Linked DNA regions of Homo sapiens. The protein of the gene in region 3 purifies or fractionates together with the protein of the main gene of each other region. This does not show direct contact. Each region holds a gene or a part of one and is shown on either strand. Other genes may lie near its edges. The genes, in order: CTPS2, DHX15 and SUGP1.

Region 1 (7,970 bases), on a different chromosome or scaffold from region 3:
GTCAGAGAGAAACTTTGCTTCTGAGGCCTTCATTTTTGGGTTTTGTTTTCTGAGCCCCAACACATACAACCTAATCACCTAAATATATTAAGACATAACATGGTGTATCTTTGACCAAATTAAGATAGAAATCTGTTTTTTTTTTTTTTTTTTTTTTTTTGGAGACAGAGTCTCACTCTGTCACCAGGGTAGAGTGCAATGGCACGATCTTGGCTCATTGCAACCTTCACCTCCTGGGTTCAAGTGATTCTCCTGCCTCAGCCTCCCGAGTACCTGAGACTACAGGTGGGTGCCACCACGCCTGGCTAATTTTTGTATTTTTAGTAGAGACAAGGTTTAACCATGTTGGCCAGGATGGTCTTGATTTCTTGACCTTGTGATCCGCCCGCCTTGGCCTCCCAAAGTGTTGGGATTACAGGCGTGAGCCATTGCACCCGGCCATAAGATGGAAATCTTAGTGGTGACAAATAAAATTTAGATCTTAGTTTAAAAAAACATAGTCAATAATATATTCAATTTTATAGTCTGCTCTCTTTTTCAGGTAACATAAGCATTTTCTTTCTTCCTTTTTTTTTTTTTTTGAGACACGGTTTTACTTTGTTGCCCAGGTTGGAGGGCACTGGCACAATCTTGGCTCACTGCAACCTCCACCTCCCAGGTTCAAGCAATTCTCGTGCCTCAGCCTCCTGAGTAGCCGGGATTACAGGTGCACGCCACCACACCTGGCTGATTTTTTGTATTTTAGTAGAGATGGGGTTTCCCCATGTTGCCCAGGCTGGTCTCGAACTCCTGAGCTCAGGCAATCCGCCCGTCTTGGCCTCCCAAAGTGCTGGGATTACAGGCGTGAGCCACCGTGCCCGGCCACATAAGCATTTTCTTTTTTTTTAACTTTTTTTTTTGAGACGAAGTCTCGCTCTTGTCCCCCAGGCTGGAGTGCAATGGTGCTATCTGGGTTCACTACAACCTCTGCCTCCCGGGTTCAAGCGATTCTCCTGCCTCAGCCTCCCAAGTAGCTGGGATTACAGGCGCCTGCCACCACGCCTGGCTAATTTTTGTATTTTTAGTAGAGACAGGGTTTCACCATGTTGGCCAGGCTGGTCTCGAACTCCTGACCTCAGGTGATCCGCCTGCCTCAGCCTCCCAAAGAAGCATTTTCTTATACAAAAATTTATTAGGCATAATGTGACTTGTACGAATGTATGCCAGTTTTCTTCACCATACCTCTACGGCATTTTTCCATTTCGGTAACTTTTACAAAGAGAGTCATTTGAACAGTATAACAGTGCCAGAATAAGGTATAATTAAAGCACAGTTTATTTGCCCCTTAATCCTGCAGGAAAGGTGAAGTCCAGTGGAACATAGACCTTGTCTTTTTGTTTATCTCCATATTCCTAGGACTTGGAAATATGTCAAGCATGTAATAGATGTTCAAATAAACATTATATATGTAATATATGTATATATATAATTTATTTATTTATTTATTTCAGACGGAGTCTCACTCTGTTGTCCAGACTGGAGTGCAATGGTGTGATCTTGGCTCTGGGTTTGGATTGACAATGTTTTAAGCTATAAACATAGGTCAGATAGGTGGGTGCCCTGGTGACTAGTGAAGATGTGCGATGGCATTGAATGTGATCAACTGTGTTGTGTAGAGAAAGGTAGGCCCAGGGACTTAGGGAGGCCATCTGGGATGGAACATGTATATTTTGAATAGCTTCAGTTTACTCAGCCTGACCATGGTCAGCTAGTTCAAATGGAATTCACAGCTCTGACGTGTGATAACTTTAGTTAAGATAGTTTGTTTTGAAAGGTAAGCAGAGGAAACCACAAAATCAGAATGGGCATTCCTTTGAGGAGGACAAATAAGAAGTGGGTAACTGAAATTGTTCCTACCCGAATGCATTTGTGCTGAATTTCCAAGTATGTAAAAAAATTGTGAAATTACAAATGAAAGTGAAATTTATAGTTATTACCTTTTGTTAGTTACTGTCTCTCTCTCTCTCTCTTTTTATTTTTTCTTTTTTGGTACCGAGTCTCACCCTATTGTCCAGGCTGGAATGCAGTGGTGTGATCTCAGCTCACTGCAACCTCCGCCTCCCGGCTTCAAGTGATTCTCCTGCCTCAGCCTCCCATGCAGCTCATGTAGCTGGGACCACAGGCACACGCCACCACGCCCGGCTACTTTTTATATTTTTAGTAGAGACATTGTTTCGCCACGCTGACCAGGATGGTCTTGAACTCCTGACCTCAGGTGATCCGCCCGCCTTGGCCTCCCAAAGTGCTGAGATTACAGGCATGAGCCACCGCACCTGGTCTCTCTTTTTATTTTTGAGACAGGATCTTGCTTTGTCACCCAGGCTGGAGTGCAGTGGCACAATCACTTGGCTAACTGCAGCCTTGACCTCCTGGGCTCAAGCAATCCTCCTGCCTCAGCCTCCCCAGTAGCTGGGACTACAGGTGTGTGCCACCACACCTGGCTAATGTTTTATTTTTCTTTTGTAGAGAGGGAGTCTCACTATGTTGACCAGGTTGGTGTCGAACTTCTGACCTCAAGAGATCCTCCCACCTCAGCCTTCCAAAGTGTTGGGATTACAGATGTGAGCCACCATGCCTGGCATTATTTTTCTTTTTCTGTAACTGTAATTTTATATTGTGGTCTTACTCAGTTGCCCATTTGCCTGCCATGAGTACACAAATAATACTGTTTATGGTCTACTTTCACATACATGGTGAAATTACAAGAGCAGAAGGCCCCTGTACACACTCAAGGGAAAAACAATAGTACTCAAAGTAAAGAAAATCAAGTTATTGGGCTTCCTATAAAACAAAAGGGTTTGAATCAGAAAGCAGCAGAAAAGTCAAATAAATTTTCCTTATGACTGTCAACTTAAAAATCACAAGATCTATAAATTTAGAAAGGAGACTTTCTTTTTTAAAACATTTTCTTTTCTTTTTTTTTTTTTGAGACAGAGTCTCACTCTGTTGCCCAGGCTGGAGTGCAGTGGCGTGATCTCAGCTCACTGCAACCTCCGCCTCCCAGGTTCAAGTGATTCTCCTGCCTCAGCCTCCCGAGTAGCTGGGATTACAGGCGCATACTACCATGCTCGGCTAATTTTTGTTTGTTTGTTTGTTTGTTTTTTTTTTGAGACAGAGTTTCGCTCTTGTCACCCAGACTGGAGTGCAATGGTGCGATCTCAGCTCACTGCAACCTCCTCCACCCAGGTTCAAGCAATTATCCTGCCTGAGCCTCCTGAGTACCTGGGATTACAAGTGCCCACAACCACGCCCGGCTAATTTTTGTATTTTTAGTAGAGATGGGATTTCACCATGTTCGCCAGGCTGGTCTTAAACTGCTGACCTCAGGTGATCCACCCGCCTTGGCCTCCCAAAGTGCTGGGATTACAGGTGTGAGCCACTATGCCCAGCCTAACTTTTGTATTTTTTAGTAGAGACAGGGTTTCATCATGTTGGCCAGGCTGGTCTCAAACTCCTGACCTCAGGTGTTCCGCCTGCCTCAGCCTTCCAAAGTGCTGGGATTACAGGCATGAGCCATTGCACCTGGCCAAAATTTTTCTTACCTTTCGAGTCGGAGTCTCACTCTGTTGCCCAGACCGGAGTGCAGTGGCACGATCTGGGCTCACTGCAACCTCTGCCTCCCAGGTTCAAGTGATTCTCGTGCTTCAGCCCCGCAAGTAGCTGGGATTACAGGTGCCTGCCACCACACCTGGCTAATTTTTTATTTTTAGTAGAGACAGGGTTTCACCATGTTGGCCAGGCTGGTCTCGAACTCCTGATCTTAAGTGATCTGCCTGCATTGGCTGCCCAAAGTGCTGGGATTATAGGCGTGAGCCACTGTGCCTGGTGACTTTATTTCTTTTCTTTTCTTTCTTTCTTTTTTTTTTTTTGAGGCAGAGTCTTGCTCTGTCACCCAGGCTGGAGTGCAGTGGCACAATCTCGGCTCACTGCAACTTCCGCCTCCTGGGTTCAAGCCATTCTCCTGCCTCAGCCTCCCTAGTAGCCAGGATTACAGGTGTGCACCACCACACCCAGCTAATTTTTGTATTTTTAGTAGAGACAGGGTTTCACCATGTTGGTGAGGCTGGTCTCTAACTCCTGACCTCGTGATCCACCTGCCTCGGCCTCCCAAAGTGCTGGGATTACAGGGGTGAGCCACCACGCCTGGTTTACTTTATTTCTTTGCAGGCTGTAACAGCCTGCAAAGGGGCCATCCCACAGGCTGGGAAGCACACGTTTTAAAGAGACAGGGTCTCGCTATGTTGCCCAGGCTGTTCTCAAACTTCTGGCCTCAAGTGACCCTCCTACCTTGGCCTCCCAAAACCAGAGGCAGGCACTCTGAAGGAGGGTTCAGTTTTATGCTGAATGGGTTGGCTAAATATACATATTCAACAGGTTACAGGAGGAGCTATGAATATTCATGAAGGTGGTCCTGACTCATGTGTATTGAATAAACATGAAAATAGCATATGACCCCTGTTCACTTTGGGGATGGAGACTTAACATTTAAATGAATTTCAGTTAAGCCCTATGCATCAAAAGATCTTTCCAGGACATGAAGGCACGCAAGTCCACAGCCTCTGTAAACTGGCCAGAGCCAGTCCATGGTTGGTGGTCTTATCAGGAGAAAGTTACTCAAATCAGTCTCTTGTCCAATAAAAGCTGTAGTTTTGACTGGTGTAACAGGACTCAGTCAGTCAGCATCTGTGAGCTAGATGAGTTGTAATTATTTTAATATTGCTTATTTAAAAACAGTTTTTATTTTTTATTTTTTTGAGACAGAGTCTCGCTCTGTTGCCCAGGCTGGAGTGCAGTGAGCCACTGCACCTGGCAAGACTTTTTTTTTTAGAGTAATTTTAGGCTCACAGCAAAACTCAGTGGAAAGTACAGAGTTCCCATACACCCTCTCCCCCACTGCTATGCCCAGCCTCCCTGACTATTAACATCCTGCACCTGCAGAGTGGTACATTTGTTATAATCAGTGAACCTACATTGACGCATCATTTTTGCCTAAAGATCATAGGTTTTTGTTTTGTTTTTTTGAGACGGAGTTTCGCTCTCATTGCCCAGGCTGGAGTGCAATGGCCTGATCTCGGCTCACTGCAACCTCTGCCTCCCAGGTTCAAGCGATTCTCTCTTCCTCAGCCTTCGGAGTAGCTGAGATTACAGGCATGCACCACCACACCTGGCTAATTTTGTATTTTTAGTAGAGACGGGGTTTCTCCATGTTGGTCAGGCTGGTCTTGACCTCCCGACCTCAGGTGATCTGCCCGCCTCAGCCTCCCAAAGTGCTGGGATTACAGGTGTGAGCCACCGTGCCCGGCGGAAAGTCTGTAGTTTATTTACATCAGGGTTCGCTCTTCCTGTTGTCCATTCTGTGGGTTTGGATAAATGTGTAATGACATGTATCCATCATTACAGTATTATACAGAATAGTTTCACTGCCCTAAAATTCCTTTGTATTGTGACTATTCATCCCTCTCTCCCTCCTACCCGCTGACAACCACTGATCTTTTTACTATCTCTCTAGTTTTGCTTTTTCTAAAATGTCATATAGTTGAAGTCATACAGTATGTATGTTTTTCAGATTGGCTTCTTTCACTTGGTAATATGCACTTGAGATTCCTCCATGTTTTTTCATGGCTTGGTAGCCCATTTTTTTTTAACACCAAATTATATTCCTAGAGATTGTTGTATATTTTCCACTTTACAGATGAAGGAATAGGCACAGAAAGGATAAATAACTTGCCCAAGGCCGGGCGTGGTAGCTCACGCCTGTGATCCCAGCACTTGGGGAGGCCGAGGTGGGTGGTCACTTGAGACCAGGAGTTCGAGACCAGCCTGGCCAACATGGTGAAATCCCATCTCTACTAAAAATACAAAACTTAGCCCAGCATGGTGGTGCATGCCCGTAATCCCAGCTACTTGGGAGGCTGAGGCATGAGAATCATTTGGACCGGGGAGGTGGAGGTTGCAATGAGCCGAGATTGTGTCACTATACTCCAGCCTGGGCAACAGAGTGAGACCCTGTCTAAAAAAAAAGAAAAAAAAAAAAAAAAGAACTTGCCCAGGTACAGTTTGTACAGATCAGTCTGACACTGGAGTCTGAGCTCTTAAACATTTTAGCATGCCTGTGAATCCTAGAGAAATTTGGTTTATCATGATGAAGTTTGTTGCATGATAGAGTTGAGGTCTTTGGAAACCCAGGGCAACAGACCTAGGCACTTTGCTTGCAGAAGGTATCTACAGCTTTCTGTATAGTGACAACAATAAAAAGCCTAGAAGATAAGACTTTGTTTCAAAAAATTCAAGTATTTAGTTTGGACAGAAAACTGCTGTGTGCTTTTGAAATTTTGGTGAGACGAAGCATGGTGGCTCACTTTTGTAATCAGCATCTTGGGAGGCCAAGGCAAGAGGATTGCTTGAGCCCAGGAGTTTGAGACCAGCCAGGGCATCATAGTAAGAACCTGTCTTTACAAAAATGTTTTAAGAATTAGCTGGGAGACGTGGCACGTGCCTGTAGTCCCAGCCACTCTGGAGCCTGAGGCAAGAGGATTGCTTGAGCCCAGAAGTTCAAGGTTGCAGTGAGCTATGAACATGCCACTGCACTCCAGCCTGGGTGACATAGGGAGACACTGTCTCTTAAAAAAAAAAAAAAATTCTGAGCTAGGTGCGGTGGCTCATGCCTGTTATCCCAGCACTTTGGGAGGCTGAGGCAGGTGGATTGCTTGAGCTCAGGAGTTGGAGACCAGCGTGGGCAACATGGTGAAACTCCGTCTCTACAAAAAACCCACAAAAATTAGCAGGGCGTGGTGGTGCTCACCTATAGTCCCAGTTACTAGGATGCTGAGGTGGGAGGATCGCTTGAACCCAGCGAGCAGAGGTTACAGTGAGCCATGATTGCACCACTCACTGCATTCCAGCCTGGGTGACAGTAAGACTATGTCTAAAAAAAAAAAAAAAAAAAATTAATTCTGGTTGAATACACTGTCTGCTTTACTAGTTTTAAATATTTCTCTTTCCTTATCCATAATTTTATTGCCTTTCAGATTATATCTGGGTGTTGGCACCCAGCCACTATTCTGCCAATGAAGTACATCCTGGTCACGGGTGGGGTCATCTCAGGCATTGGTAAAGGGATCATTGCCAGCAGCATTGGAACGATTCTAAAATCATGTGGACTCCGAGTTACTGCCATAAAAATCGACCCCTATATTAACATCGATGCTGGCACTTTTTCACCTTATGAACACGGTACGAAAGTGAACCACTTCCCCCTTATAGCACTAGGCTCAACTGCATTCTTTCTTCCATTTTGGGTAATTTCTTTAGGATGTAGTTCCAGATTTAGAGTGACTAGATCGTATGCTATGAATATGTGAATTTTCTCATGGTCATTGATACATTGTTCATACCTCTGATGACATTCCAAATTAATCATCCCTTTTGGAAACATTGTATCTTTTGCACTACAGATTCTGTTTTATTTTTAACATAAAGGTAGTGTGTTTCTCTTAACATTTCCCACTGCCTGGAGTAACTATTATTAATGGTGACATTTTGATGTATGAGTATATTTGATTTATTTTTAAAATGGCATTAGCCCTTACATGCTATTTTTAAAAAACTTTTTATAAGGCCCAGTGCGGTGGCTCATGCCTGTAATCCCAGCACTTTGGGAGGCCGAGGCAGGTGGATCACGAGGTCAGAAGATCGAGACCATCCTGGCTAACACAGTGAAACCCTGTCTCTACTAAAAATACAAAACATTAGCTGGGCGTGGTGGCACGTGTCTGTAGTCCCATCTACTCAGGAGGCTGAGACAGGAGAATCACTTGAACCTGGCAGGCGGAGGTTGCAGTGAGCCAAGATCGAGCCATTGCACTCCAGCCTGGGCGACAGAGCGAGACTCTGTCTCAAAACAAACAAACAAACAAACAAACAAAAACAAC
Region 2 (6,550 bases), on a different chromosome or scaffold from region 3:
AATATCTAACCAATATTTAAATGTAACCTGAAGTATTATTCCACCATGTAAATTATTCCATGGGAACAAAATGAGGCACTTATAGAAGGCACATTAACTTTTTCAAGCCACTAGGCATCATTTAGTAACACCTACCTACACTAAAAAGCATACTAGTTAGCTTCAAAGAGTTAACTTGCCCAACTCCCTAAGTCACATGCTAGTTACCAAGTATATTTAAATGCCAGGCACACACCTATATATTTCCTTTAACACTTAAAAACTTATAAAGGTAGGAGGGGAAGAAGAGGGAAGTCCAGACTAATGAGTACAGTATTTAGTCTTCATATGAAAATAACTGATTAAAAAACATTTTATGGGCCACATAAAACACCTCAATTTTCATTCCAAAATGAATGTAGACAAGTTTTCAACTTGTCTACTGCCTGTCATAGAAAATGGAAGGTCAAATGTACATTTTAACACACTATACAAATTATTTTGTATACTGCATAAAACTTCCATCACTAAGAATTTTGTTAAACTGAGATCTAAAATATGCTTTCCTCTTACCTAATACTAATAAACGTGTTTGAGAAGCTAGAAGTATAATAAAAACATCTGACAAAAATGTAGTTAATAAATTATGAGCCTTATGAAAGGAACTCTAAGAAAGACAAGTAGAGAGCTCTCCTTTCATTATTCTCTCTTTTGGGGTCCAGTTTCAAATGATCACTACACACATTTTACCCCTTTTAGATCGATCACATCCTGATTAACCTAACAAAGCGCTAAGCCATGCTCTTAAAAATACTGCTTTAACAGCTACTTTTCCTAAGGAGTACTCCTGGTAGAAAGATACTAAATATGTAGTAACAGTATAATTATAATAATAAAAAAGCTCCACACTTGAAAAACAACTATACTTAGAGACTAGAACAAAGATACCAAAGGGCTTTGGCCAAAATTAGTATAAATAGACTTTATTGAAGTCAGTGCCTCTGTACTGAGACAGAAGATTGTGTCTACATAAGCACAAGTTGTAACATTTCACAACTTCTAAAAGGAATGTCAACAATTACAACGATCATGCATACCATGGTCGATAATCACATTTTAGAAGCATTTTCAACCATTTCTAAAGAAATGCTTATAACATTGTTATATATAGAACTACTTTCAATAAACTGCAAAACATTGATCGACTTTTCCAGTATGAGCTACAGTGTCAACACAAAAGGGAGGCATAAATGTTTAATTTATGAAATCAGAATGGAATATTTACTGTAAAGAAAAATTAAAAAGCTTTCAAATAAAGGCCATTATCGAACCAACGTGAAGAGCACAACTCGAACTTTTGAGTTCATTCATCTTTTAAAGCTGTCCTCTCAATAACTTCAGTTCTAAGCACTGAATTCAGTACTGTGAATATTCCTTGGATTGAAGTTTGGCAATGATGCGGTCCAACTGTCTCTTTGCTTCACACTGTGGGAAATTGCTCATGTCATAATATTGAGGGGCAATTTTCACCAACCTGTTTAGAAGTGGGCAGAAAAATTTCCAAATTAACATTTAATTGAAGTACTGGAGTTGTTAATAGGATAGGCATTATTCATTAATATACTGATGAACCAAGGCAAATCTATGAATTCAAGTCTCAGAAAAATACAAATAACTAATCCTTACAAATAGCACTTTTAGAAATGTGTTAAGTATTTTATTTAGTAAGATGTGAATTTTCTGATGTTGGACTTACCATAAACTTAATAACAAACCCCTCAAGATACATTAATGTAAAGATAACAGATAAAGTCACTGATTTCTTTACTCTGGCACACTATTAATTTGCCACTCCAAGGATATAGTAATATATAACAGGTTCTGTGTAGGAAACATCGTGGTATTCAAATGATTGGATCTTTTCATTTTCAATGTTTTAATAACTGTAACTCTATACCCCCAAAATACACTTGACTGAAATCTTTTATAAAGTTTAGCTATATAATTTTTTTCTCAACAAAGCGTTTAAGATAAAATGGTAATGTCCTACACAATTTAAGTGTCAAAAGTCCCAAATCCGTATAAGAAAGCAGCTGCACAATATAAAGCGGTGACAGCACCTAGAATATGTGCCTTCAGTCCCACTACTCTTGGCTGACATTTCCTGTCATAGGTTATAGAATAGATTCTGGCATAAATAAAACAAAAAACCATGAAGGTGAGGGTTATTTTGCTTAAAATAAAACAATCCGTTCTTACTCTACATTTTGTAGAAGCTAGTATGTTAAAACACAAAGAGCTATCATTTTTATGCCTGCACAGTTCCTAAAAACCAATATATAAATAATAAATAGTTGAGGGCTAATTGTAATGGGACAAAAAAAATGTTAAAAAACAAAACAAAACAAAAAAAAACAGATTTCTGCAAGCAAGAAACAGTACTGACTTGAGAATCACAACAGCAAGAGAATGGCTCCAAAGAAACTCTAAAAATTAAAAAAATTAAAAAAAAACCCTTTTTTAAAAGTATGTCTGAGAGACAGGGTCTCACTGTCACCCAGGCTGGAGTACAGTGGCATGATCATAGCTCACTGCAACCTCAAACTCCTGGGCTCAAGCAATCCTCCTGCCCAGCTTCCCCAGTAGCTGGGACTATAGACGTGCAGCACCACCATGCCCAGCTAATTTTTGTACACACCTATATATCTTTTAGTAGAGATGGATTCTGGCTATATTGCACAGGCTGGTCTTGAACCCCTGGCTTCAAGTGATCCTCCCATCCTGGCCTCCCAGAGTCCTGGGATTACAGGTGTGAGCCACCATGCCCAGCCCCTGAAGAAACTTTTCATGCTATTCAAATGTAACTTCACATTTGGCTTCAAATCCTGCCCATAAATATCAACAATCCCACTGTCCACTTAACAAAGGAAGGGTGTGAAAGATTAATCACACCATCCAGTCAATTCCCTCATACCTACACACTGAAATATAAATTCTCAATGAGTGAATGCAAGGCCATGACTCTAGCAACAGTCAGGTTCCATTTTGAGCAAAGTACTAACAAAAAACTGTTAGAACAAAAGGTGTACTTACCATTCTGGCTTGATATCTGTACATGTCCGGATGTAATTCTTTGTTGTTAGAACAAACTCATTATAAAGCACCCATTCAGGTTTGTGGTCAAGAACAGTAGAGGGATGCAACTGAACCACCTGGTTATCTTTCACAGTTAAGTAATGCCCTGTTCGTTCTAAATGTGCCACCTGAAACCAAAACCCAGTATATTATTAATACAATGCTTCTGACTTGCTAGTTGTAAAGCTACCTACATAATTAGGAAGAGGCAGGCCTCCCTTTTACTTTTCATTCTATGGCTATACTTATTTATCACTGTCTGATAAAAGCAGAGATAAGCAAACTGCTGCCTGTGGGCCAAATCCAACTCATAGCCTCTATTTGTAAGGTCTGTGAATCCAAAATGGTTTATTTATCTTTAATTAGAAAGAAAAAATATCATACAAAAAACATTCCGTGAAGCATGAGTAGCATGTAAAATTCAAACTTCAGTATCCATAAGGAAAGTTTTATTAGAACACAGGCATGCCCATTTGTCTATACCTATTATGCTCCAAGAGCAGGCAGTGTTAGGTAGTTTTGACAAGGACTTCATGGGTCCACAGAGCCCAACATTTACTATCTGATCTTTCCTGCCTGAGACCATCTAGAGCAGGCTCTTCAGCACTGGGCGCCAACTATGAGCAGACAATTACCAGAACATTCATGTCTAAGGTAGAAAACTAAAGCCAGGTGCAGTAATCCCAGCACTTTGGGAGGCTGAGACAGGCAGATCACCTGAGGTCAGGAGTTCGAGACCAGCCTGGCCAACACGGTGAAACCTCATCTCTACTAAAAGTACAAAAATTAGACAAGCGTGGTGGCGGGTGTCTGTATCCCAGCTACTCAGGAGGCTGAGGCAGGAGAATTGCCTGAACCCAGGAGGCGGAGGTTGCAGTGAGCTGAGATCAAGTCACTGCACTCCAGCCTGGGCGACAGACCGAGAGGCTCCATTTCAAAAAAGAAAATAAAGAAATAGAATAAAAAATAAGGTAGAAAACTAAAGAGGGCAAAGAGGAAAAGAAAAAGGTAACCTACAAAGACAGGAAAATAAAAATGGGAAAAAAAAAAGAGCTTGCACGTGCTTCCCTCTCATTTCTTTTTTTGGTAACACCTTGACTGGTGATACTCATCAAAATGGACAGTTCTCCCTTTCCAATTCTAATATTCTGTGCTTAAAGAATGAGCATGAATAATAGAAAAGAAACTCAATTTCATTCGAAATATTTACTAAACACCTATTAGGTGTCAGGTACTATAATGCATGCTGTTTCTAATAAATTTTTTGTTTGTTTTTAAAAAGAGATAGGGTTTTCCTATGTTGCCTGGGCTGGCTTCAACGCTCCTTGCTCTCCACTCAACTTCTCTAGTAGCTAGGACTACAAGCACACTCTGTGGTGCCTAGCTGTTTGTAACAAATTTTAATCTACATAATTAAGAAGTATAATGCTTGAATATAGTTTCATCAATTTTTTTTTTTTTTTTGAGACGGAGTCTCGCTCTGTCGCCCAGGCTGGAGTGCAGTGGCGCTATCTCGGCTCACTGCAAGCTCTGCCTCCCAGGTTTACGCCGTTCTCCTGCCTCAGCCTCCCGAGTAGCTGGGACTACAGGCACCCGCCACCGCGCCCGGCTAATTTTTTGTATTTTTAGTAGAGACGGGGTTTCACCATGTTAGCCAGGATGGTCTCGATCTCTTGACCTCGTGATCCACCCGCCTCGGCCTCCCAAAGTGCTGGGATTACAGGCGTGAGCCACAGCGCCCGGCCAGTTTTTTTCTGAAATATAAAAAGCAAATTTAAGAACATGTCAACCCAGGCCTGGTGGCTCACGTCTGTAATCTCAGCACTTTGGGAGGTCGAGGTAGGAGGATCATTTGAAGCCAGAAGTTCAAGATCAGCCTGGGCAACGTGGCGAGGCCCTCTCTCTACACACACAAAAAGGCAAAAATTAGCTAGGCATAGTGGTGCGTGCCTGTAGTCCCAGGAACTCAGGAGTCTGAGGTGGGAGGATCACCAGAGCCCAGGGAGGTAAAAGCTGCAGTGAGCCGTGATTGCACCACTGCACTCCAGCCTGGGAGTGAGACATTGCCTCCCTCACCCCATCCCCTCCCCCTAAAAAAGAACAGAACATGTCAAAGAGAAGCCAGTACAACATATCAAATATTAAGAATATAGTTAAGAGTTTCAAGAAAGAATGCTCATACCTATCATTCACCAAACTCTAATAAGCCTATTATATAATAAGATGCCACAATAAACACTGTGTTACTTAGATTCAAATACAGACATCTCACCAATCTCCTTTGATTTTTGATTCTGAAACTGAGTGTCCTCAGGCTCATATTCTAGCTACTGAGCCCATCTGGCCTTAAGGGTAAGCCACATCGTGCTTAAAAGACACAGCCAAAGAGAGAATGAACAAACAGAAAAGAGATAGAAGAGACTTATCCCAAATCAGGTGATTTGTTTTCAATTTTATCACCACAAAATTTTCTTGCATTTTTCTCAAAGTTTCTCTTATTTTATAAACACCTTAAAATAACTGTTCACAGTATTTACTTGACAAGTTTTACTTCTGTTCTTATAGCCGTTAACACAGCATACTTAAACTAAATAAAACCTTTTAAATTATGTTTCATCTTTATTGCTACTCAACAGACGTTTTTGGCTTTTGCAGTACGCAAGGGTCTTGGTCATAATTACCAATGATCACTCTGTAGAGGACTGTAAATGAAATCCACGTATTTGAATATTTGAATTTGGAGGTGCTTAGTTTTTAGATAAAGACTAAAGCCAACTGTATGTACTTTTGGATCCGCTCAATTGCTTCCTTTTAGTACTCTGTTATGACAATGTATTTCCAATTAAGCCCTAGATTCAGAGAAACTTTAATGCACTGATCAATATTCACATTCCTGAAGAAACAGGTGCCTAATCACATCTGAAAGTAGCCAAAGTTTCCATTTTGTATAACAAAGGCTCTATTAATAAAATAATTCTAAAAACGATTCCTGTATAACTAGACTACCTTAGCCATTTAGTACATTAATTTGTTACTCATTAAATACTTAAAATTTCTTAGTATATTAATTCACTCAAAGAAACTGGATGTACCAACATTTAAGATAAATTTTTATGAGCATGCACAAACTCACTTTTGCTTTTGAGTGGATTCAAAGGACTGTTAATAGAAATCAGTGTCATATGAATACTTAGTTATTCATTCCCATATTATCTACATACCTGCATAAAATACCCAGTAACCAAAGCTTTTCTTATATTAATATAATAGTCCCTGCTTGTAAAGTCAGTACTTCGACGAGGCAAATTAAATCTGTCCATAATTCGAGATAGCTGCTGGCGTACATTGTCTGCGGACATCAGGGACCTGTAGTTAATGAAGTTGTCATAACACCACTGAACCGATTCATGATCTAAAAAGGTAGAAGGCGGGGAGA
Region 3 (7,970 bases):
TGCCCCACTGCACTCCAGCCTGGGCGACAGAGTAAAACTCTGTTTCGGATAGATAGATAGAGAGGGAGAGAGACAGAGAGAGAGAGACATGTAGGCCCTGCCTTGGAAAACTCTAAGGTCTAGCAGGAGGACAGACATGAGTCAGTAACAACCCAGATAATCAACTAGCAAGGGAGGACAGGTGCTGTGCAGAGAGAGCAGGAGCCATCTTGTTGGAGGGCCATTTGGACCTGGAGGGTTAATATTCAGGCAGAGATAATACATGGAGTATTGCTTTTATCAGAACAAGATTGTTCCCAGCTTACCGTACTGAAGCCTGCTGTGCGCACTTCGCAGTAGTCTCTTGAAATCTCTGGGGGCCAGTTTGGGGTCCCAGTAGGTGAGAGTGCTGGGGTGAGTTAGGGGCCATGATGGACGAGGTGATGGCCTCATCCTCATCCTCGTCCTCTGGTGCCCTCACTCCATCTCTAGCCAGCTCACCCTCTCTGTCCTCTGTCTTGGTTCTAGAATCACAAATGCACACAACTCTTCCTGCATTTCCAACAAGTTTGCCAACGATGGTAGCTTCTTGCAGCAGTTTCTGAAGTTGCAGAAGGCACAGACCAGCACAGGTGAGTGTAGGCCTCCCCTTTCCTTGTGCTGTCCTTGCATCTCCCCCTGGGGTTGCTGGGCACATGGGAAGTGATGGGTCCCACCTCAGACTCCTGCTCACCGGTAATCATAGATCGCCCTCATTCCACCCATGCGTGCACCAAAGGCATAAATAAATAAATAATACATAAATAATTTTTTTTTTGAGACGGAGTCTCGCTCTGTGGCCCAGGCTGGAGTGCGGTGGCGCGATCTCGGCTCACTGCAAGCTCCGCCTCCCGGGTTCACCCCATTCTCCTGCCTCAGCCTCCTGAGTACCTGGGACTACAGACGCCCGCCACCACGCCCGGCTAATTTTTTAAATATTTTTAGTAGAGATGGGGTTTCATCATGTTATCCAGGATGGTCTCGATCTCCTGACCTTGTGATCCGCCCACCTCAGCCTCCCAAAGTGCTGGGATTACAGGCGTGAGCCACTGTGCCCGGCCTTTTGTATCTTTTTAGTAGGGACTGGGTTTCATTGTGTTACCAGGATGATCTTGATCTCCTGACCTCGTGATCTGCCCGCCTTGGCCATCCAAAGTGCTGGGGTAATAGGCGTGAGCCACTCCGCCCGGCCAGTAATTTTTGTTTTTTTGAGAGGGCCTCACTCTTGCTCAGGCTAGAATGCAGTAGTGCAATCATAGCACACTGCAGCCTCAACCTCCGGGGCTCAAGCAAACCTTCCACCTCAGCCTCCCTGTAGCTGGGGCTACAGGGGCATGCCACCACACCTGGCTAATTTTTTTATTTTTTGTAGAGTTGTGATTTCGCCATGTTGGTCACGCTGGTCTTGGACTCCTAAGCTCAAGCAATCCACCTGTCTCAGCCTTCCAAAGTGTTGACATTACAGGCAGGAGCCACTGTACCCAGCCCAAGTAATAAATATGTAAATTAATACCAAGGGGGCAGGCTGGGCGCAGTGGCTCACGCCTGTAATCCCAGCACTTTGGGAGGCCGAGACAGGCGGATCACCTGAGGTCAGGAGTTCGAGATCAGCCTGACCAACATGGTGAAACCCTGTCTCTACTAAAAATACAAAAATTAGCCGGGCGTGGTGGCAGGCGCCTGTAATCCCAGCTACTCGGGAGGCTGAGGCAGGGGAATCGGTTGAACCCAGGAGGTGGAGGTTGAGGTGAGCCAAGATCATGCCATTGCACTCCAGCCTGGGGGACAAGAGCGAGACTTCGTCTCAAAAAAAAAAAAAATTACCAAGGGGGCAAATGTAGACCCTGCACTCAATGTGCTTACCCTGTAGGAGCAGAGACAGATAAGTCAGATTTCAGTCTGGGGCAGGTGGAGCCATGATGAAGCCTTCCCCACACTTGTGAGACCACTTTGGGAGATGGGAGGCATCCCCAAGCTGGGTCAGCTTGAACCCACCAGCAGGGGTGAGCAGGTCTTCTGCATACAGGGTTTTCAGAGACACCGGGCTGGCCCGAGACACCTGAGCTGCATCAGAGAACAATAGGTTCTGGGGCCTGCTGCGGCTGAGGTGCCGGGTGGGCACGCAGCTGGGGGCACCCAACAATGACCACCAGGGCACTAGTGTTCATCGGGTACCACCCCGTGTGCCAGGGAATGTGGACTCAGTGCCTGCCATGTCCCTTGCTCCGTGCAAGCAGACCACGTCTGTGCTCTCACTGAATCCTCTGGAGGGACACCTCTCTCTACCTCTGTTTCCCTTTGGTAGACGTCTGATAACACACGTCGTATTCTCTTCACTCAGAATTCATAGATGTCGGCTGGGTGCGGTGGCTTATGCCTGTAATCTCAGCACTTTGGGAGGCCGAAGGGGACAGGATCGCTTGAGCTCGGGAATTCAAGACCAGCCTGGGCAACATGGCTAAGTCTCCTCTCTACAAAAAAAATACAAATAATTAGCCAGGCATGGTGATGCATAACTTTAACCCCAACTAATGGGGGGGCTGAGATGGGTGGATCACTTTTGGGCCTGGGAGGCGGAGGTAGCAGTGAGTGGAGATCACGTCACTGTACTCTAGCCTAGGAGACAGAGCAAGACTCCATCTCAAAAAAAGAAAACAAAAAAGAATTCATAGATGTAACATTTTGCCTTTGATACTTCTGATCTTTGTTAATCATGAAAAATACTCACTGGGCACAGTGGCTCACGCCTGTAATTCCAGCACTTTGGGAGGCCGAGGCGGGTGGACCTCCTCAAGTCAGGAGTTCGAGACCAGCCTGGCCAATGTGGTAAAACCCCGTCTCTACTAAAAATACAAAAATTAGCTGGGCATGGTGGCACACCCCTATAATCCCAGCTACTTGGGAGGCTGAGGTGGGAGGATTGCACGAACCTGGGAGGCAACCAGCTCTGCTCACGTGAGCTGAGCTCACGCCACTGCACTCCAGCCTGGGCAACAGAGCGAGACTAAGTCTCAAAAAGAAAAAAAAAAAAGAAAAATACCAGAGGTTGAAGTCCTCCCATCCCCCTTTCTTACAGGAAGTAACTGTCGAGAAATTGTGTGTCTGACAACCCCTGTTGTCCTCTCAGTCAAGCAGTGTGTGCCGTAGTTTCAGATGTTTGACCCTTTATGCAGATGACGACATAGTGTGCGTTTTGTTCCAAGCTTTTTTCTCTTACTCGACGTTATTTTTTTTAGGTCTAGATGGTCCAACTAAATCTCATTGAGTTCTGTAAGCAGCTGGTTACCTCCATTTCCACACTTTCCATTTAGGAAGCTAAGGCTTAAAAAGATGAAGCCCCTGCCAGGCATGGTGGCTCATGTCTGTAATCCCTTTGAGAGGCTGAGCTGGGAGGATCGCTTGAATCTAAGAGTGTGAGACCAGCCTGGACAGCCTAGCAAGAACCCATCTCTGCAAAAAATAAAAATAAAATTAGCCAGACATGGTGTCGTGCACCTGTAGTCCCAGCTACTCTGGAGGCTGAGCTGGGAGGATTGCTTGAGCCCAGGAGTTCAGGAGGTAGAGGCTGCAGTGAACCATGATTGCACCACTGCACTTCAGCCTGGGTGATAGAGCAAGACCCTGTCACTAAAAAAAAAAAGATGAGGTCCCCAAGTGCAGAGCCAGCATCTTTCATGATCCGGGGGCCCTAGTCCTGCTCTCAGGGTGGTGAGCTGGCCAATTTCATGATGCTGCTCCCCACCAGACTCAGGGCTCTTCCTGAAGCTGTCACACACCAGCCTTGCCCCATCCCCTGCCTTGCTGTGGGTGCTTCTGCACTGTAGGTCCTCTGGACACCAAAGTGTGGGCTAGAATGGCTGGTCTCCAGGTCCTCACCTGGCCCCCTTGTCAGTGCCCCAGGGGATTCCCGGCCTTCTCCAGTGGGCAGCAATGCCTGTGCAAGGAATGGGACCCCTGTCTGTAGGTTGGTCGCCTACAGGTGTGCAGTGTGATATGCCAGGTGGGTAAATCGTCACCCGTGGAGCTTCTGCCCATGTCTCTGATTTTGGGGTTTACCGACCAGAGCCCATTGTTGCTGGTGAGACAGCTGGTCTTCGACCTCTGTCAGGTTTCCCAGGGAACAGCTAAGAAAAGTTAACCCAAGGCCAAATTCATCCTAGAATGAGGAAGGCTGGTTTGAGTCCCTTCCCCATCAGGTGTCAGGCTGAGAACACCCAGTAGGCTGGCCCCTGGCCAGTCAGCCTGGCCACAGACCTCCAAGGGAATGGTTGTAAACTGGGATTCGGGGACTCGGGTCTTACCCGGCAGAACTGACGTTCTGTCCCCAGAACTGTCCCCAGTCTGTGGGTGCAGCGCGACCGAGATGCCTCCAGCCACAGCGGCCCACTTCAGAGCCCCAGGCTGCTGCTTTTCTGGCTGGGGGACCACAACGAGTCCTTTTGCTCTTTGCCTCACTGTCCCCATCTGTAAAATCAGGGTGGCCTCCTCTGAGCCCCTGAGTTCTGGAAGTCAAGGACCCAGCTCCCCCGGGGCCCACAGCACCTAGGTTAGGTCGGAAGCCGGGAGAGGTGCCCTGCAGATCCCGAGTGCGCATATCCTTCCTTCTATACCAGACGCCCCGACCAGTGCGCCCAGCGCCCCTCCCAGCACACCCACCCCCAGCGCTGGGAAGAGGTCCCTGCTCATCAGCAGGCGGACAGGCCTGGGGCTGGCCAGCCTGCCGGGCCCTGTGAAGAGCTACTCCCACGCCAAGCAGCTGCCCGTGGCGCACCGCCCGAGTGTCTTCCAGTCCCCTGACGAGGACGAGGAGGAGGACTATGAGCAGTGGCTGGAGATCAAAGGTAAGTTGTGGGAGCTGCTGCTCCCCCACCACCAGTGCCCGTGCTCTAGCAGGTGGGATCTGTGGTGGGCAGGGCAAGTGCTGCCAGGGGCATGGGTGCTTTCGGCTGAGTTGCAGCCACCAGACCTCTGAGCTGAGCCTCAGGCCCTCTGAGGTGAGGAGAGCAAAGGAGGGTGAGGGGCGGGGCTGGGGTGTTGCTGGGCATCAGCGCGTGGGCTTCATCTTGGGAGCAGCGGGATCCATCTTCCACTCACACAGCGGCTCATCCCAGCCAAGGCAGGGGCGCACGCCCTTCTCGCATTTGCTCCAAAAGGGCATCCTCACATCCCTTCTAGGAGGAGCTTCTAAGGCTCTTCCGCTGAGCCCTTGAGGCCCCAAAGCACTGCCCCTCACCATGGGTTACCTGTCCCCTGAGTTTAGGCCAGAGGTATGAGCTGCAGGTTGGAGGGTGCTCTCTTCTATCCCTGGGAAAGGACGGTCACTGGTCACGGGTGAGCTTGTCCAGACCGCCCAGTGTAGGAGGGCAAAGGGGGGTGGCTGTGGTGACAGCATTGCCAGCAAGTCCAGCCCTGTCCACATTCAGGACGAGTCCCTGTGACACCTGAACTGTGTGAAGGGCTAGCCGGTGAGGTCACATCACCCTGACAGCACAGACTGAAGCGACTGTGGAGTTGTGCCATGACAGCCTTGAGATCCCTTGCTTCTGGCTGTGTGTCCGAGCGGATCAGAGGCCAGCTTGGCCCCCGGGCCATTAGAATGGAGCTGGCGTGTGTCCTTTCCTTAAAGGGGTGCCCCAGCAGCTCCAAGGGTACCCTGTTGGGAACTGCTGCATTACAAGGGGTATTGGCCATCTCGGGGCCCTTGAAGCCCATTATGACCCACTGTCTGCATGGCCTCAGAAACGCACCTGTTCCTGTAAACAGCAACCAGGTCAGGATTGTTGCTGGGCCCATGGCAGGAGGGCGACCTAGGGTGAAAGACAGTCACGGAATGCTCTCGGGACCTCACAGGGGCCCTCGTTGGGCTACACACTCCCCACCTCTCCCCCATTCCCAGCAGCCCAAGCAACAAGGGGAATAAGATTAGCCACAGGTCTGGCATGTTGCCCAGTTGCCAGGCACTTGCTGGCAGCGAGAAATTTCTCTTGTGCATCTCCTACAAGGACTGCAGTCTGTGTAGTAGCTGACAAACTCACAGCCTCAGAAACAGGCCAAGGGAAAAATGCAAAAGCAAGTTCCACATGGCTCAGTGGGGAGGCTAATCCGTATATAAAAATATATCTTTATAGCTCTGTTCACTGAAAAGGCCCCGAAATAATGATTAAGCCTGTGGCATTGAGCATCCCTAGCTCCCAGATGCTGGTCTGGAGATGCAGTTTCTCATGGAAACCGACTTCTTGGAGAAGTGGCTGGCTCTGGGTCTGGGCAGGAAGTGTATGAGATGATCTTGGAGCGCCTGTCCTGGCAGATGGCAAGGAGGCCATCAGAGACTCCTGGGGCCATGTCCAGAGCCCTCAGGAGCCAGCTTGAAGAGGTTCCACCGGCCGCAGAGCTTCTATGATGACACTAGTTGCCATGGATCGAAACCCACCCAGTGTGTTTAAATCAGAGCTCATAATGGTATTTTTTAAAAAAGAACGTGTCATCTTTGAAGGATGAAAGGGAACCGATGTATTATGCTGAAAACTGGTAAAGAAAGAAAAGAATTAAGCATTTCCCCCACCAAAACCAGGGGAAGCTGGATATATTTTCTGCTAGCTTCCAGCCTGGAGCTCACCACAGCCTCACACACTTCTCTCCCACCTAGTGTGTCTCACCAAGACAGTGAGACCGACTCCCCCCTCGTCATGGTGTTTTGTGCCTGGACTCGGGACGCCCGACAGCCTCCTGCATCTCACACTCTTCTCCCCCCACCCCCTCTGTCGTTGTGGTCCATAGAGAGAGTGTGCCTATTGACTGTGGGGTGTGTGAGTTGAACCCCAGTACTGACAGCCTCCTTAAAGTTTCACCCCCAGAGGGAGCCGAGACTCGGAAAGTGATAGAGAAATTGGCCCGCTTTGTGGCAGAAGGAGGCCCCGAGTTAGAAAAAGTAGCTATGGAGGACTACAAGGATAACCCAGCATTTGCGTGAGTATCTCCGGGGAAGGGAAGGCTGTGCTGTTGAATGCGTTTGCTGCACAGTCGCACGTGTGGGGCTGGGTGCTTGCTAGTGTGGGCCGGATGCTGTTCCAAGCGTTTTCTGATTCTCACCAGAAGTGACAAGTGGCTCCCATGTGGCACGGAGACTTGCTTTCGGGTCCCTGCTCGCCAGCCTGCCTTTTTTTGCACGATAGAAGCTGCAGGGATATGCCTGTCACAGATACTTATTTTCCCCTCTCTTCTGCAAACTTCCTCCTCTCCAGATTTTTGCACGATAAGAATAGCAGGGAATTCCTCTACTACAGGAAGAAGGTGGCTGAGATAAGAAAGGAAGCACAGAAGTCGCAGGCAGCCTCTCAGAAAGGTAGGTGGACGGAGCGGGTGGGAGATTCTGGGGAGGCCTGTGGACATACCGTGCCCCAATGCGGAATCGGGGTTCCTGGAGGTGCTGGAGTGGCACTGTGTGGCACCGGTGGTTGAGGCCTGTATTCTCCCAGGCATCTGGGGTCACTCTGGGAATGGGTCTGACACCACCTTCCCCCTCAGTGCTCCAAGGACCTGGTGAAGCCTGAGTGTCAGGCCACATTGTGGGGTAGACGGGAGCTCATGGAGGTCGAGGTCGCTTCTGGGAGAGCGGTTCAGGGCAGTACCCTAGGTAGAGGGGGCTTTTGCTTGTTGGTTCTTTGTTACATTAACAAGTGTTGATGAGCCCCAGCTTCCTCCTGGGCACTGAGGACAGGGCAAGGCAAGTGTAGTGTAGGGCCGAGGGCCTGGGGGACAGACACTGTCAGCTGGTGCAATTCTGATGGGATGAATTTCAGGGGAAGGGGAAATACTGGCTGGTCTTTGACTGCAATGACATAAAATCCCAGCCAAGTGCTGGTGGGTTGGTGGGGTGGAATTGATGTTCAGGCCAAGCGCAGGCTGCAGAGGTTTGTTCCTTGTGTTCCCTGTGGCCCTGTGCCCTGAGCCTC

Evidence for each region.
Region 1: the proteins of SUGP1 (region 3) and CTPS2 purify together in Homo sapiens (affinity purification with mass spectrometry; 2 studies listed by BioGRID and IntAct, with this or other methods). This does not show direct contact.
Region 2: the proteins of SUGP1 (region 3) and DHX15 purify together in Homo sapiens (affinity purification with a luminescence readout; 2 studies listed by BioGRID and IntAct, with this or other methods). This does not show direct contact.

What each region holds. Positions count from the first base shown.
Region 1 is NC_000023.11:16,702,039-16,710,008, reverse strand, and holds part of CTPS2 (CTP synthase 2), read left to right. Parts: intron 1-168; exon of another isoform or gene 169-198; coding exon of another isoform or gene 199-285; intron 286-1,490; exon of another isoform or gene 1,491-1,590; intron 1,591-2,511; exon of another isoform or gene 2,512-2,600; intron 2,601-7,067; coding exon of another isoform or gene 7,068-7,106; coding exon 7,107-7,272; intron 7,273-7,970. UniProt on the Homo sapiens protein: Catalyzes the ATP-dependent amination of UTP to CTP with either L-glutamine or ammonia as the source of nitrogen. Constitutes the rate-limiting enzyme in the synthesis of cytosine nucleotides.
Region 2 is NC_000004.12:24,526,529-24,533,078, forward strand, and holds the end of DHX15 (ATP-dependent RNA helicase DHX15), read right to left. Parts: intron 6,527-6,550; coding exon 6,336-6,526; intron 3,243-6,335; coding exon 3,073-3,242; intron 1,514-3,072; coding exon 1,396-1,513; 3' UTR 947-1,395; downstream 1-946.
Region 3 is NC_000019.10:19,302,738-19,310,707, reverse strand, and holds part of SUGP1 (SURP and G-patch domain-containing protein 1), read left to right. Parts: intron 1-507; coding exon 508-611; intron 612-4,631; coding exon 4,632-4,859; intron 4,860-6,860; coding exon 6,861-6,984; intron 6,985-7,259; coding exon 7,260-7,360; intron 7,361-7,970.